Linked DNA regions of Homo sapiens. The protein of the gene in region 1 interacts with the protein of each later gene in a pairwise test. Each region holds a gene or a part of one and is shown in the gene's direction. Other genes may lie near its edges.

What was found.
Region 2: the proteins of RIDA (region 1) and HPD interact in a two-hybrid assay, tested with the Homo sapiens proteins (one large-scale study listed by BioGRID and IntAct).

The regions. Positions count from the first base shown.
Region 1 is NC_000008.11:98,101,662-98,104,648, reverse strand, and holds the end of RIDA (2-iminobutanoate/2-iminopropanoate deaminase), read left to right. Parts: intron 1-104; coding exon 105-160; intron 161-1,744; coding exon 1,745-1,807; 3' UTR 1,808-2,305; downstream 2,306-2,987. UniProt on the Homo sapiens protein: Catalyzes the hydrolytic deamination of enamine/imine intermediates that form during the course of normal metabolism. May facilitate the release of ammonia from these potentially toxic reactive metabolites, reducing their impact on cellular components.
Region 2 is NC_000012.12:121,841,603-121,845,425, reverse strand, and holds part of HPD (4-hydroxyphenylpyruvate dioxygenase), read left to right. Parts: intron 1-1,593; coding exon 1,594-1,716; intron 1,717-3,823. UniProt on the Homo sapiens protein: Catalyzes the conversion of 4-hydroxyphenylpyruvic acid to homogentisic acid, one of the steps in tyrosine catabolism.

The DNA.
Region 1 (2,987 bases):
ATTGAATAACAATAGAATATCTGAAAACTAAAATAAAAATTTTCACTTGATCTTTATTTTTTCAACTCTTCTCTATTAAAAAAATGAAATTCTTTTAAATTCAGATTTCAAGAGTAATTTTCCTGCTAGAGCTGCTTACCAAGTTGCTGCTTTACCCAAAGTAAGTACACTTTAAATGACTAATGTACACAGTTTTCAGTTTCTACATTGTTTTCCTTCTATAAGTAAACTAAGCACTGTGAAAGGAAACTTAAAAGAAGTAGCCTGGGCAGGGTGGCTTACCCCTGTAATCCCAGTGCTTTGAGAGGCCAACACAGGAGGATCGCTTGAGGCCAGGAGTTCTAGACCAGCCTGGGCAACATAGCAAGACAGCCATCCCTACAAAAACAATTTAAAATTAGCCATGCATGGTGGTGGTGCACACCTATAGTCCCAGCTACTTGGTAGGCTGAGGTGGGAGGAACACTTGAACCCAGGAGTTCAAGGCTGCAGTGAGCTATAATCGAACCACTGTGCTGCAGCCTGGGTAACAGTGTGACCTTGTCTCTTAAAAAAAAAAAAAAAAAGAAAAGAAATAGACCCTGCTTCCCCAGGGACTTAAAGTCTGAAAGGAAATATCCCATATTACATGCATGAAAAAAAAATTAAGAAACCTTTTAAGACAGCACATGAACATAGAATCAGAATCAAAATACTTAAATTGTGAGAAAAGGCCAGGCGCGGTGGCTCACGCCTGTAATCCCAGCGCTTTCGGAGGCCGAGGCGGGCGGATCACAAGGTCAGAAGATCGAGACCATCCTGGCTCACATGGTGAAACCCGTCTCTACTAAAAATACAAAAAAAAATTAGCCGGGTGTGGTGGCGGACGCCTGTAGTCCCAGCTACTCGGGAGGCTGAGGCAGGAGAATGGCATGAACCCAGGAGGCAGAGCTTGCAGTGAGCCGAAATCGCGCCACTGCACTCCAGCCTGGGCGACAGAGCGAGACTCCATCACAAAAAAAAAAAAATTGTGAGAAAAAATAAAATAGCAGCTGTACTGTTGTAGTGTTACTTAGGGGACTATAAATTTGAGCCAGGTTTGTTTGTGAGTTCTGCAGTAAAAATTTCACCTGGATATTGTACAATTAAAAATCTAAGCCTTCCACTAGAAAAATAATCTCTAAACCAGGGGCACACATATTTCTCACCATTTTGATTTTGCTACTTTTAACTCAAAGCTTAGCAGCACAATATTCCTGCCTATAAAAAAGCAGCTCTTACTGACTTCCACTTGCAGTTTCTACTAAAGAAAATTTATGTTTTAAGAGTGTCATTTGTATTGCTTTAATTAGTTGTTACTTGGAATGATCATTATCAAACCTATTAAGGTACTGGGTGTAGTAGAAAGAGCTCTGAACTTGGAATCACAAGACAAGGGTTCAACCTCTGCTATCTAGCTTGTGACTTGGGATGACTTAATTACTCCTTCTACACTTCAGCATATCATTCTGTGAATTGAGGGGAAAATACGTCTCTAATAGGGCTTCTGTGAGAATCACATAAGCTAATATAGTATATGAATATACCTAGCATGGTAACCTGGTCTGTTATAGGTTCTTGGTGAATATTTCCTTCTCCTTTCCTTCCTTGAAAAGTTTAATGTTAAAAATGTTATATTGCTGTTGGTTGCATGTTTTTAGTAGGTATTATAGAGTTTGCAATTTGTACAAAATGATTACAACAAATTCTTTCATTTTCCTCACAGGGCAGCCGAATTGAAATTGAAGCAGTAGCTATCCAAGGACCACTGACAACGGCATCACTATAAGTGGGCCCAGTGCTGTGTAGTCTGGAATTGTTAACATTTTAATTTTTACAATTGATGTAACATCTTAATTAACCTTTTAATTTTCACAATTGATGACAGTGTGAGTTTGATGAAAATATCTGAAGCTATTATGGAAATACCATGTAATAGGGAGAGTTGAACATGAATATTAGAGAAGGAATCCAGTTACTTTTTTAAATTACACCTGTGTGCACCTGTATTACTGAATATAGGAAAGAGATACCCATTACATAGTTACTCAGTAAACAAAAGAGAAATACCAGGTAGGAAAGAAGAGTTACTATTCCTGAGAAATAATCAAGAACATATTTAATTTAAACTAATGATGTGAACTATTTAGTTTTGATGTCCGTTATGTGATTCTGCTTTTACTTGAGTAAAATTAAAGTGTTTAAATTTGAGATCAAGGAGAAGATAGTGGAACAAAATGTTATATAGATAATATTTTTCTAATGGAAATAAAATAGGCAGATTTCCTTTGGTGTGATTTTGTTCACTTATTTCTTAACAGTTTATACATTAAAACGTATTGCCTAGTGGGGGCAGGTAAAGTTAAAATCTCCAACTATTTCATTTTTCAAAGCCTACTTCTGACTTCATACACTTTTTTTTGTTTTTGTTTTTGTTTTTTATTTTTGAGACAGAGTCTCGCTGTGTCTCCCAGGCTGGAGTGCAGTGGCGCGATCTCGGCTCACTGCACGCTCCGCCTCCCGGGTTCACACCATTCTCCTGCCTCAACCTCCTGAGTAGCTGGGACTACAGGCGCCCGCCACCACTCCCGGCTAATTTTTTTTTTATATTTTTAGTAGAGACAGCGTTTCACCGAGTTAGCCAGGACGGTCTCGATCTCCTGACCTCATGATCCGCCTGCCTTGGCCTCCCAAAGTGCTGGGATTACAGCTGTGAGCCACCGTGCCCAGCTGACTTCATACACTTTTATACAGTTTATTTTTTTCAACAGTTATGGCCAGCTATTACATGAAACCTCATTTAAACTTTCTAGTCTTCAGCAGTTTTGGCCATTTACAGTGTTGCAGAATTTGCATGTAAATTTTCACATTTGTAGACATCTTTTTAATCTCTGCTATATCTGTCCCCCCTTTTCATCAATGATATGATTTATTTGGGCTTCTTTTTTTTTTCTTTATCTGTCTTTGCC
Region 2 (3,823 bases), on another chromosome or scaffold:
ACGGGGTTTCACTGTGTTAGCCAGGATGGTCTCGATCTCCTGATCTTGTGATCTGCCCACCTTGGCCTCCCAAAGTGCTGGGATTACAGGTGTGAGCCACTGCGCCCGGCCATAAGACCTCATCTTTACAAAAAAATCAAAAAATTAGCCAGGTGTGGTGGTGCACACCTGTGGTTCTAGTTACCCAGAAGTCTGAAGTAGGAGGATCAGCTGAGCCTGGGGAGGTTGAGGCTGCAGTGAGCTAAGATCATGCCACTGCACTGCAGCCTGGGTGACAGAACAAAGACCCTGTCTCTCAAATATATATATGTGTGTGTATATATATATATATCCTTCTTTTTTGAGATGCAGTCTTGCTCTGTCTTCTAGGCTGGAGTGCAGTGGTGCGATTTTGGCTCACTGCAACCTCCACCTCCTGGGTTCAAGCGATTCTCCTGCCTCAGCCTCCCAAGTAGCTGGGATTACAGGTGCATGACACCACGCCTGGATAACTTTTTTTGTATTTTATTTTTATTTTTTATTTTTTATTTATTTTATTTTATTTTGAGACAGAGTCTCGCTCTGTTGCTCAGGCTAGATTGCAGTGACGCGATCTCGGCTCACTGCAAGCTCTGCCTCCCGGGTTTACGCCATTCTCCTGCCTCAGCCTCCCAAGTAGCTGGGACTACACGCTCCCACCACCACGCCCAGCTAATTTTTTTTTTGTATTTTTAGTAGGGGTTTCACTGTGTTAGCCAGGATGGTCTTGATCTCCTAACCTCGTGATCACCCATCTTGGCCTCCCAATGTGCTGGGATTACAGGCGTGAGCCACCTCGCCCGGCCTTTTTTTTGTATTTTTAATAGAGACAGGATTTTGCCATGTTGGTCAGGCTGGTCTCCAACTCCTGACTTCAAGTGATCTGCCCGCCTCAGCCTCCAAAAGTGCTGGGCTTACAGGCGTGAGCCACCACACTCGGCCTAATAGATCCTTAATCGTTTCATGCCTCAGTTTCCCCAGCTATGAAATGGGAGAATAGTCCTTCAGCTGCCTCAAAAGATTGCTGCATGGACATAATGAGGGAATACGTAGAAAGTGCTCAGGCCGGGCTCAGTGGCTCACGCCTGTAATCCCAGCACTTTGGGAGGCCGAGGTAGGTGGATCGCCTGAGGTCAGGAGTTCGAGACCAACCTGGCTAACATGGTGAAACCCCATCTCTACTAAAAATACATAGCTGAGTGTGATGGTAGTCACCTGTAATCCCAGCTACTCAGGAGGCTGAAGCAGGAGAATCGCTTGAACCGGGAGGCAGAGGTTGCAGTGAGCTAAGATCGTGCCACTGCACTCCAGCCTGGGCAACAGAGACTCCATCTCAAAAAAAAAGAAAAAAAGAAAGTGCTCAAGGCAGGCACATGGTGAGTGTTCTATAAATCTAGCAGTTGTTGTTCTAACGGGGCCCATGACAGAGAAGAAAGGGGAAGAGGCCACACAGCATCCTGGCAGTTGAGGGGAGCTAGGATAGGGACCCTGTATCCTGATGACCCAGCACCTCCACCTGGCTAGGGGAGTTGAACTTGGAGGCCGAAGGCTGACCTCAGCTTTGCTCTGAAACAGATTCGCCACTTGAGAGAGAGAGGCCTGGAGTTCTTATCTGTTCCCTCCACGTACTACAAACAACTGCGGGAGAAGCTGAAGACGGCCAAGATCAAGGTGAAGGAGAACATTGATGCCCTGGAGGTGAGGCCCAGGCAGGATCCGCAGCCTTGTGGGGGGAGTATGAGCTCTGCATTGCATCTTTTCAGAAATATTGTCTCAGCCCGGAGGGGAGCCCAGACCAAGTCCCTGCTGGCAAAGGACATTTATTCTAGGGTCTATGTGGGAGGAGGAGACAGATGACAAACAAATAAACAATAAAAGCACGGTCAGAGATAGTCAGTGCAGGAAGTTCAAACAGGCAGCCTGGGGCTGCTTTACAGAGACTGGTCAGGGAGGGCCTCTCTGAGGAGGTGACATCTGAGTGAAGTCTAGATCATGAGCGGGAGCTGGCCATGTGAACAGCGGGAAGAAAGGCATTCCTGGCAGAGGGATCAGCAAGGGCCGAGGTAGGAGCATGCCCTGAGCGTCTGAGGAACAGAAAGAATAGGCTAGAGTGGATGGGAGGCTGTTTTTGAGCGATGACCTAGGTCAGACAGGTAAGCAAGAGCCAGTTCCTCTTGTGAGCTATTATTCAGGAATCTGGATTTTGTTCTTTTGTGACCAGAAACCACTGGAGGGTTTTTTGGTTTGGTTTTAGCAGTGTTATTGACATATGTCACATAACATGTCATTTTTTTAAGGTGTACAATTCTATGATTTCTAGCTATTTGCTATGTTGTGCAACTATCATCAAAATCCATTTTAGGACTGGGTGTGGTGGTTCATGCTTGTAATCTCAGTACTTTGGGAGGCCGAGGCGGGCGGATCATGAGGTCAGGAGTTCGAGACCAGCCTGACCAACATGGTGAAACCCTGCCTCTACTAAAAATACAAAAATTAGCCAGGCGTGGTGACACATGCCTGTAATCCCAGCTACTCAGGAGGCTGAGGCAGGAGAATCACTTGAACCCGGGAGGCGGAGGTTGCAGTGAGCCGAGATTGCGCTACTACATTCCAGCCTGGGCGACACAGTGAGACTCTGTCTCAAAAAAAAAAAAAAAAAAAAAAAAGATCCATTTTAGGACTAGGTATGGTGGTTCATGCCTGTAATCCCAGCACTTTGGGAGGCCAAGGCAGGTGGATCACTTGAGGTCAGGAGTTTGAGACCAGCCTGGTCAATATGGCGAAACCCCCATCTCTACAAAAAGAAAAAAAAAAATTAGCTGTGCGTGGTGATCTGTGTCTGTGGTCCCAGCTACTGGGGAGGCTGAAGTGGGAGAATCACTTCAACCCAGGAGGTAGAGGCTACAGTGAGCCATCATCAGGCCACTGCACTCCAGCCTGGGTGATACCCTGTCTAAAAGAAAAACAAAAACAGTTAGGCCAGACACAGTGGCTCACACCTATAATCCCAGCATTTTGGGAGGTTGAAGTGAGAGGATTGCTTGAGGCCAGGAGTTTAAGACCAGCCTGAGAAACACAGGGCGACCCTGTATCTACAAAAAAAACAGTTTTAAAAAATTAGCTGGGCATGGTGGTTCGTGCCTGTAGTCCCAGCTACTCAGGAGGCTGAGGTGAGAGGATCACTTGAGGCCAGGAGGTCAAAGCTGCAGTGAGCCATGATCAGGCTACTGCATTCCAGCCTGGGCAAAAAATCAATTTTAGAACATTTTTGTCACCCCAAAAAGAAACCTTGAGCCTCTTAGCCAGCACCTCCCAACCCCCTCTGTTCCCTTCCCCCCTCCCACCCCAGCCCTAGGCACCATTAATCTACCTTCAGTCTCTATAGATTTGCCTATTCTGGACATTTCATCAAAAGGAATCACAAAGTCCAGGCACGGTGGCTCATGCCTGTAATCCCAGCACTTTGGGAGGCTGAGGTGGGCGGATCATGAGGTCAGGAGTTCAAGACCAGCCTGGCCAACATGGTGAAACCCTGTCTCTACTAAAAATACAAAAATTAGCTGGGTGTGATAGCAGATGCCTGTAATCCCAGCTACTGGGGAGCCTGAGGCCGGAGAATTGCTTGAACCCAGGGAAGGGGAGGTTGCAGTGAGCCGAGATCGCGCCATTGCACTCCAGCCTGGGCGACAGAGTGAAACTCCATCTCGGAAAAAAAAAAAAAGGAATCACAAAATAGGCCTATTGTGAGCAGCTTCTTTCCCATAGCATGTGCTCAAGGTTCATCTGCGTGGGGTGTGTGTCAGTG